Regions from separate parts of the Homo sapiens genome. Here all the other regions are linked to region 1. Evidence: fine-mapped expression QTL. A gene starts in region 1. Each other region holds a variant in brackets. All regions are shown on one strand. Distances are between the middles of the regions. Region 1 holds the start of CFAP44 (cilia and flagella associated protein 44). Region 2 overlaps CFAP44 (cilia and flagella associated protein 44). Region 3 overlaps ZBTB20 (zinc finger and BTB domain containing 20).

Evidence for each region. PIP is the estimated chance that this variant, and not a neighbour inherited with it, causes the effect.
Region 2: its variant is fine-mapped to the expression of CFAP44 in left ventricle (GTEx, PIP 0.93).
Region 3: its variant is fine-mapped to the expression of CFAP44 in prostate (GTEx, PIP above 0.99).

What each region holds. Positions count from the first base shown.
Region 1 is chr3:113,440,321-113,443,087 of GRCh38, forward strand. It overlaps CFAP44 (cilia and flagella associated protein 44), which reads right to left and starts at 1,173. Exons shown (of 35, transcript NM_001164496.2): 1 at 1,133-1,173. It overlaps SPICE1 (spindle and centriole associated protein 1), which reads right to left. Exons shown (of 18, transcript NM_144718.4): 18 at 2,398-2,767. SPICE1-CFAP44 (SPICE1-CFAP44 readthrough (NMD candidate)) reads right to left here. Exons shown (of 52, transcript NR_183050.1): 20 at 1,133-1,334.
Region 2 is chr3:113,291,019-113,293,785 of GRCh38, forward strand. CFAP44 (cilia and flagella associated protein 44) reads right to left here. Exons shown (of 35, transcript NM_001164496.2): 35 at 1-730. The coding sequence ends at 539. SPICE1-CFAP44 (SPICE1-CFAP44 readthrough (NMD candidate)) reads right to left here. Exons shown (of 52, transcript NR_183050.1): 52 at 1-730. Among named protein-coding and RNA genes, the nearest start is that of BOC, 81 kb to the left of the region's middle. The variant C/T (reference allele first, on the strand shown) is at 1,085.
Region 3 is chr3:114,346,470-114,349,236 of GRCh38, forward strand. The region is part of intron 11 of ZBTB20 (zinc finger and BTB domain containing 20); the gene reads right to left. Among named protein-coding and RNA genes, the nearest start is that of ZBTB20-AS1, 4.0 kb to the right of the region's middle. The variant A/AT (reference allele first, on the strand shown) is at 1,065.

The sequences.
Region 1 (2,767 bases):
AAAGTGCTGGGATCACAGGCGTCAGCCACCGCGCACAGCCTATTATTATTATTTTTGAGACAAAGTCTTGCTATCCATTATTATTACTGTCATTATTTTACAGATGAGAAAGCAGCGTATTTACTCTGAATCCGTTCCTCTCACCCAATTCATGTAGATGATTTCCAAGTCCTGTTACTTGGTGTCCAGTGATTAAGCCTTTTGAATTCCTCCCCTCCCTTCATTCCTACTGTCCCTGCTGTCCCTCTGTAGTTCCAGTCCTCACTGTGTCTCACCTCTACCATTACTGTACCGTCATACTTTGTCTTCCCTTCTGTAACCCATTTTCTACACTATCGCTTGTATTTCTAAAACACAGCTTTTAATGTGTCACTCTTGCTTAAAACCTCTAATGGCTCATCACTGCTATCAAATAAGAGCTCAGATTCCTCGGTCTGGTGTAAAGGTCCCTTGTCAGAGGGTCTGTAGCTTATTGCAGCCCAGCTACAGTCACCCTCTCTCTCTCCCTAGCCTCCTTAGCCTTCTCCTCTCAAAGATTTTCATCAGTACGCACCCTTAGCAACTCATGATAGACTGGACACACTGAGCAGCACACATGTATGCGACTGTCTTTACCTATTATCCGACAAATATTTATGTGCACCTACTATGTGTCATGCATGTGCTAAGCACTTTACTTGTATTATCCTGTTTAATAATAACTCCATGAGGTCACATTATCACCTTTCTTTCTGGAGATGAGGAAGCCGAAGTGCAGAGGGCCCAGCGTGCCAAGCGTCGCACCCAGCTGAGCGCAGGGCAGGTGTCTCACTGGAGCGGGGAGCCCCAGCACCTTCCCAGCTGACTCGCTGCTGCTCTGACTTGGCCGGGTCTAAGCTGTGCTCCTGCTGCCTGGCTGGCTTCCGCCCGGTCAGACTGACAGGGTCTTGCAGGCAGGAACCGTGCACACAGTGTCTAGCTCCGAGCCTGAGAATACTCGTGGCTTCAAAAGTTTGCTGAGCTACCGCAGGGAGGACGAAGGCTATAACACTGGTCCAGCCTGAGAGAAGCCCAAGTGGGGTTCACTGCCCTCTGAGCCACAGATTTAAGGGGGAGGGTGTGGAAACTGCCGGCTGCTGAGGTCCAAACTCACCGAAGGTACTGACCGCCGCGGCTCCTCTCTTCACAGCGTCTGCCGGAGGCCTCCGTTTACTCCGGTTACCGAGACAACGCCACCCCTCTTCCAGGGAGGCGGAACCAGGGCGGGCCGTGGGGCGCATGCGCGGCCGGCGTCCAGCTCTCCGGGAACCCGGTACCTATCCGCCCTTTGGTCGGGCCTTCTCCGCCTCATGACACTGGTTCAAAGCCAAACAGAAAAGCCCGACGAGTTTATTATCCCCTAAAGGACGTCATGTAGATAATTAAATGACATGAATACCGTCGAAGATACCTGCCTGATATTCCAAAATGGCCCAACGGAGCCCTGATCGCGGCGTTCCTATGTTGAGGTTTTAACTTCGATTTTAAGAGGGGTCCTGGGAGATAGTAGGCAGCTTGCCGGCAACATCAACAACAAAGATACATCGTGGGATTTTTGTTATTTTTAAAACTATATTATCTCTGTTGGCTTTTAAGAGTAAATCAGGTTTTATGTTGTGGGTTTCTTGGTCGCAGCGCTCTGGGCACAAAAGTATAGGCCTCCCTTGACAGATTTCTAGGTTTAGCAGTTTGTTCAACCTCTCTGTAGTACTGTGGTCATATTGTTTTTTAAAGTACCTAGCCTAACGTTATTAGTTACCAAATACTTGTTTTAAAATGGTCATTCCAATATGTGACAAAGGACTTTGTATACAGAATGTATAAAGAACTCTTATAATTCAATAAGAAAAAACCACCCAATTTCTTAAATGGGCAAAGGATTTGAATACTTCACCAAATCAGATATATGTATGGCCAATAAGCACATGGATAGATGCTTAAAAGTAGTCATAAGGGAAATAGAAACCACAATACACATAACTCCACATCCACGTGAAGGGGTAAAACTTCAAAGATTGCTAACACCAAATGCAGAAGGATATGGAGCAACTGGAACTCGCATACACTGCTGTTGGGAATGTAAAATGGCATAACCACTTTGGAAAACTATTTGAGAGGTTTCTTCAAAAGTTAAACATACACAAAGTCATTCCACATCCAAGATAGTCTAGAGACTTGGGCAAAGTGGTTGCCTAGGACTTAGTGAGATGCACTGGAAAGAGACACAAGGAATCTTAGAAATGATAGAAATGCTGTGTCTTCATTGTGGTGGTAATTTCATGGGTATATACAACTGCCAAAAGCCAATAAACTGTTCTCTTTAAATGGATGTCATTTATTGTATATAAATTATTTGTCAATAAAATTGGCAAGAAAAAATTGCTATAATACAATTTGTGTTTATTAGTTTCCACAATGTTACACAAATACCATGCATTTATTTGCAATACTGAAATGTCCTCTTTAATCAAGATTTTCCAGGGCTTAAAAAAATGATTATCCTTGCTATTACTTATTAAATGGTATATCTAGGTGCCAGAAAAGATAGAAAACATAGGGTAAACTTATTTTTAAATAGCATGTTATTTATATTTTCAAATCATATGCCCAGCATGTTTTCTTTCAATCTCTAGACATCTTTTCAGGTGAAATACCTCTAAATTTCAAGCACTGTGTGCAATTGTTAATCTGAGAAAGATACAATAAATTCACTATACAATGTCTTAAAAATTGGAAACATGGGGGAAAT
Region 2 (2,767 bases), 150 kb before region 1:
CAAAACACTGCTTTATGAAGTCAACAATGCCAAAACTGAAATTTGCATTTCTATTCTAAGATATAGCTGACAAAATGTCCTTTTCTCCTGCATCCTCTCAGAGAACACTTAATAACATCTAAGTTTATTTTCTAAGGATCAAGAAAACAAAGTTTTCTCATGAATTGCTGAATGATAGTTTTTCTTGCCAAGGGCTAAAAATTCAGGATACCCCCAAATCAAATTTTCCTAAAACAAAATATATTACAGGTGATTTGCTGCAATCATGAAACACAGCCTTCCGAGACTTCATATTCAATCTAGTAGGTTCGAAACATCTAAAATGATTCAGTTTCATAACAGAGGTTGGGTGCTGCAGTCAGTTCTAAGATAACCAAATTGTAGAGAGATTCTTAAAGTGACTTAACGTGACTGGATCTGGTTTTACACTTTCAGGCGAGTTCAGTTTAAAGTAATAAGATTGTTGGAGGTGATGAGGAGACAGAACTTCCAGTGAGTTATGTCAGAAATCTTGTATGGGTTTGAGAAAATAGCAAACTCAAAGGTCTGCGGGCTGTATCTCTTTCTCTCGTGGAGACTGAATGGGTGGGAGGATAAGACTGCCTTTCCTACGCAAAAGAGCAATCTCCTCCTTTAAGGCCGAAATCCTTTCCGCCTGGAGTTGGATCAATTCAGTGACCTCCTCTCTTGCCACAACATCTGCTTCCCGAGGGCCCTGGAAGGCATTGCCCTGTTGAAAGAAAACAGCTCCCTGTTGAAGCATCATTTGGCATGTGAAAAACTCCATGCCCTTATACTGTGTATCTGTGATGAGTGCTGGCCTGACAGTCACCCTAAACAGCCACTGTTCCTTAATCTCGGGAGCCTTCAATTCCTCTGCTAAAATCCCACCATTAGAAATGTGTGCCTTTGGGCTAATAAACAACTCTTCAAGTGCAAATCCTCTTTGGATGAGTACACTTTAAGCTAGCTATCAGTCATTCATTACCTAAAGAGCTCATCACTGGAATAATAAAAGACAGAGTATGTCTTTCTTTTTCTGGACAGCCCATATTTGGGTTCCCAGAATGAAATCTTCTGTTTC[C/T]TCATCGGAGTTATTTCCCTGTCCAGCTGACTCCTACTCATGTTTCACACATCACTTTCAGGGAGGCCTTCTTTGCCCCATGGACTAGGTTAGGATTTCCTGCTTTCTGTTTTATCGAAACATCCATTATACATATACATCACTATAATTTACAGAATATTACATGGTTCATTCTGAACCATGTAATATTTATGATATTTGACCATTTTTTAAATCTAAAACAATGGCAATTTAATATAGCATGACCAAAGTGCTTGTTTGATACCTATCTTTCCTGCGAGATCCTGTCTTTTAGAAACAGGGCTCCATATGACTAAGTCTCATCACTCTGCCAATACCTGCCCTAGTGCTTTCTACATAAGTAGATGCTCAATAACATTTGAATGCATGAATACATCTGTGAAAGGAAAGACATAATACTTGCGTGGTGCCCACTTTGTGCAAGGTGCTTTGCATATGCTCTCTCATCTAATCCCCAAAATGACTCTGAACTGGGTGGTATCATTCCAGTTTTACAGATAAGGACATTGAGACTCAGGGAGTCATTAACTAGCCAAGTCAAGCTGGAAGCAGAGTTAGAAACAGGTTGCCTGATGCTAAAAGTCCATACTTTTTCCATTACTCCTATGTACTATAGCAGACCTTCATAGTAAGGGTTACCCAACACCCTCTGCCTCTTCTCCCTTGCTCACTTTTATTTTAGAGCCCATGAAAGCTAAACACTTAACCTTACCCATTTTCTCTTCCAGCTAGAGAGAGCTAAGTGGATATAATCTGAAACTTTTGCTCCTTAATAAAAGGGACAGAAGAGGCTGGTGCATGGATGTGAAACATGGGAGCTGAAGCAGCTGTCATGTGACTTTGAAGGAAACTTTAGGAAAATCACAGAGATATGGGCTCTGGCATCATGGTCCTACAAAACCAAAGCGTGTAGTCATCTCCCTCTAGACTTCTTGTCAAGTGAGAAAAATGACTCCTATTTGTTTAAGGTACTCTCAATAGGGCTTTTGGTTGCTTGTAGCTAAAAGCATGCCTCATACACCAACTCATGCCCAGTCATTCCAGTGGGTTACTTTGAAGTCACCTCACTTTCCCCTTCTCCTCACCAGACTCAATCAAATTTTGGTTATTCTTACTTTGAGATGGCTTTTGATATTTGACACATTTTTGTTGTCACCAACTATATCCCAATTCCTGCCTACATCATTGTAAGAAGCAATGGAGTCAGCGTTGGAGGCAGACAGACCTGAATTTCAAAACTAACTTCACCATGCATTAGCTCTAAGAGCTTCAGCAAGTTACTCAGCTCCTCTGAGCTTTAGAAAGTACTGTTTTGGGGATTAAATGAAATATCCTATGTGAAGAGGCCATACATGTAAACATATACTGTGTAAAGAGACAGATAACTAGTAACTTCCTCTCCCATTCAGCTGATCTCCTGCCTCTAAGCTGTTTCCTCTCCAATGTATCTGGACTGATCAAAGCACATCGACTCAACAAATGTTGACTGACTACTCAGTCTGTGAAGATTTGGGTTAGGTATTAACCTTCTCAAACACTGCCTTGATCCTTCACTCAAAAGTTCTTCAGTGGAAAAAGACCCCTCAATATTCAAATTCTAGTCTTCCTTTCACATCTAATCTTCAATTATAAGCCTTCCCAATCCTCCTAATTCACTTTTCA
Region 3 (2,767 bases), 910 kb after region 1:
GATTTGTTGAAGGACACACAGGCATTTAGAGGAAACAAAACTGGATCCAAATCATCTAATTACAGTACAATCGTCTTTCATTTATGCCTCTACTTTAAATTTTTGGGTTATAATCACTATGAAATATGCTTTACAACTAAAGCTTCCTTGATTCTTAAAGGTAGAGCTTAGCTCCAAAGCCAATATGATGGACTACTTCTTTGTCTCAAACAGATTTTTTTTTTTTTTTTTTTTGATACAGAGTCCTGCTATGTTGCCCGGGGTGGAGTGCAGTGGTGTGATCTCCGCTCACTGTAACCTCTGCCTTCTGGGCTCAAGTGATCTTCCCATTTCAGCGTCCCAAGTAGCTGGAACTATAGGCATGCAGCACCATGCCTGGTTAATTTTTATAGTTTTTGTAGAGCTGGGGTCTTGCCAAGTTGTCCAGGCTGGTCTCAAACTCCTCGGCTCAAGTGATCCACCCACCTTTACCTCCCAAAGTCCTGGGATTACAGGCGTGAGCCACCATGCCTGGCCCCAAACACTTTCTTTCATGAATGTGGATCATTAACATAGAGCAGTACAAGATTTTAATTGGAATATGAATCTTATAATTTATTCTCTTCAGGTTTTTTTTTTTTTTTTTTTTTTTTTTTTTTTTTAAGAGATAGGTACCCAGGTTGGCCTCGAAACTCCTGGGCTCAAGTGATCTTCCCGCCTCAGCCTCCTGAGTATCTGGGACTATTGGTGTGTACCATCACACACAATTTATATCTGCAGTTGTTGAAAGCAACTACCATCTATATTAAACTTTGGAGTTACTGAATTGCTAAGACAGTTACTCTGCAGGTCTATTGGTTTGCATAGCAGCTGTAATGGAGAGAACTCAAATTTCTTTTTAACTTTGTCAAGCTATTCTTTTTTTTTAGGACTCTTTTTGGTTAGAGTATGGGTGGGAACACAGAGTCCAACTCTACTCTTACAAGTATCCCCGTGCTTTCTAGAATCTTTTTATACTAACATTTGGACTTTTTGCTTTGAATTTTTATCACTTCCACTGGGCTCTTGGAAAGTTTTGAGGCTCC[A/AT]TTTTTTTATGTTTTCCCTAGAAATTGAAAAGAACTTTGTTTGGAAATGCGAGCTACAATGAACCCAGGTCTTGAATTATTTCCACATGTTCCGGCTGTCTTGCTTTTTGAAATCTAGACCAATTGTTCTAAAACTTTGTTAGGTTAGGGGATCCTTCAGTTAGACAATAGTCTTGAAAGACTGATAGGATTTCCAAACTGCCACTGCCAAATAATTCTGGAATGAAAGGGAAGAGCATTACTTCTTTTAAATTAGGTGCCTGATTGATATATGCACATTATTATTTTCAGATGGGGCTATATTATACACACCATTACAATAACATTCATAATTTACTGAGGATGTTCATAATTTACTAGAAAACTGAAGTCCACATTTTAAGCATAACTCAGATTTATAAAATGACTCTACCTATAGCTTTTGCATCTGTGTCTGAGTGCACAAATCCTTTGCTGGTTTTCTTATGTCCAAATCTAGTTATCTCGGTTAACCACAGAATCCTTCAGTGAATCCATTGGAGAAATGTATTTATACATCACGAAGATACTTTTTGGTAGTACATTGAAAATTTTATGTTGCAAATTTAAAGACTTATTTTATTATGTGATCTAACAGAATGTGTGAATTTTACATCTGATAGGTCTACTTGAAGAGATGTACAGAGGGGAGAGCAGATATGTTTATGGATCCAAGACCAGCAAAGTCAACTTTGGTTAAGGAGATACTTTCACAGATGGTCCTTCCTGCACCCCTCCCCCATGTTCCTTAATTTAATGGCTTATAAATCAGCTATCCAGGGGAGGAAAGGATATAAACTATGTGACAGCACTCTATAAATCATAAGATGCTACAAAATAAAAACATTACTATTTGATTAATTCACCTAATAATGGTGATATCCATACCATATGGAAAATTTCTTGTGATTTACCTCTGGTTATTAGTACATTCACATTTATCCCAAGTAAACAAAGCAACTCACCACTACCCAAGTTTCTTCATAAATTCAGTAGTGAGTCACTCTGTTTATTTGGAAGTGTGAATACTGTGATCTTTAAAAACTGATTCTCATAAAAGTACATACATTAATTTACATAATGTCCTGACTTACATTACCCTGCAAAGAAGGCAAAGTTCATCTTAAGCAACGTTCTGTTTCAGTTGTACAATTCCATGTTTGATGCCTTGCCTCTATCTCTGTTGCTTTCCTTCCCTTCAGTCCCCAATCTAAACTTCACTGTTTTATGTCTTCTCTCTTGGATTCCTACTAGCTGATCTGAGAAACAAGGTTGTTTTGAGAAACTAATTTGTTTTCATGTATCAGAATTCGAGTATGTAACTTTTCCCTGGTAAATTATTTGTCATTTAATAAGGGTATTCTGAGGCCAGGCACAGTGGCTCATGCCTGTAATCTCATAACTTTGGGAGGCTGAGGCAGGCAGATGGCTTGAGCTCAGGAGTTTGAGACCATCTTAGGCAACATGGTAAGACCCTGTCTCTACAAAAAATAAAAAAGTTAAATGAGCGTGGTGGCATGTGCCTGTAGACCCAGCTACTTGGGAGGCTGAAGTGGGAGGATTGCTTCAGTCCGGGAGGTTGAGGCTGCAGTGAGCCGAGATCATGCTACTGCACTCCAGCCTGGGCGACAGAGTGAGACCCTGTCTCAAAAAAAAAAAAAAAAAAAAGAATTTCAAATATAATG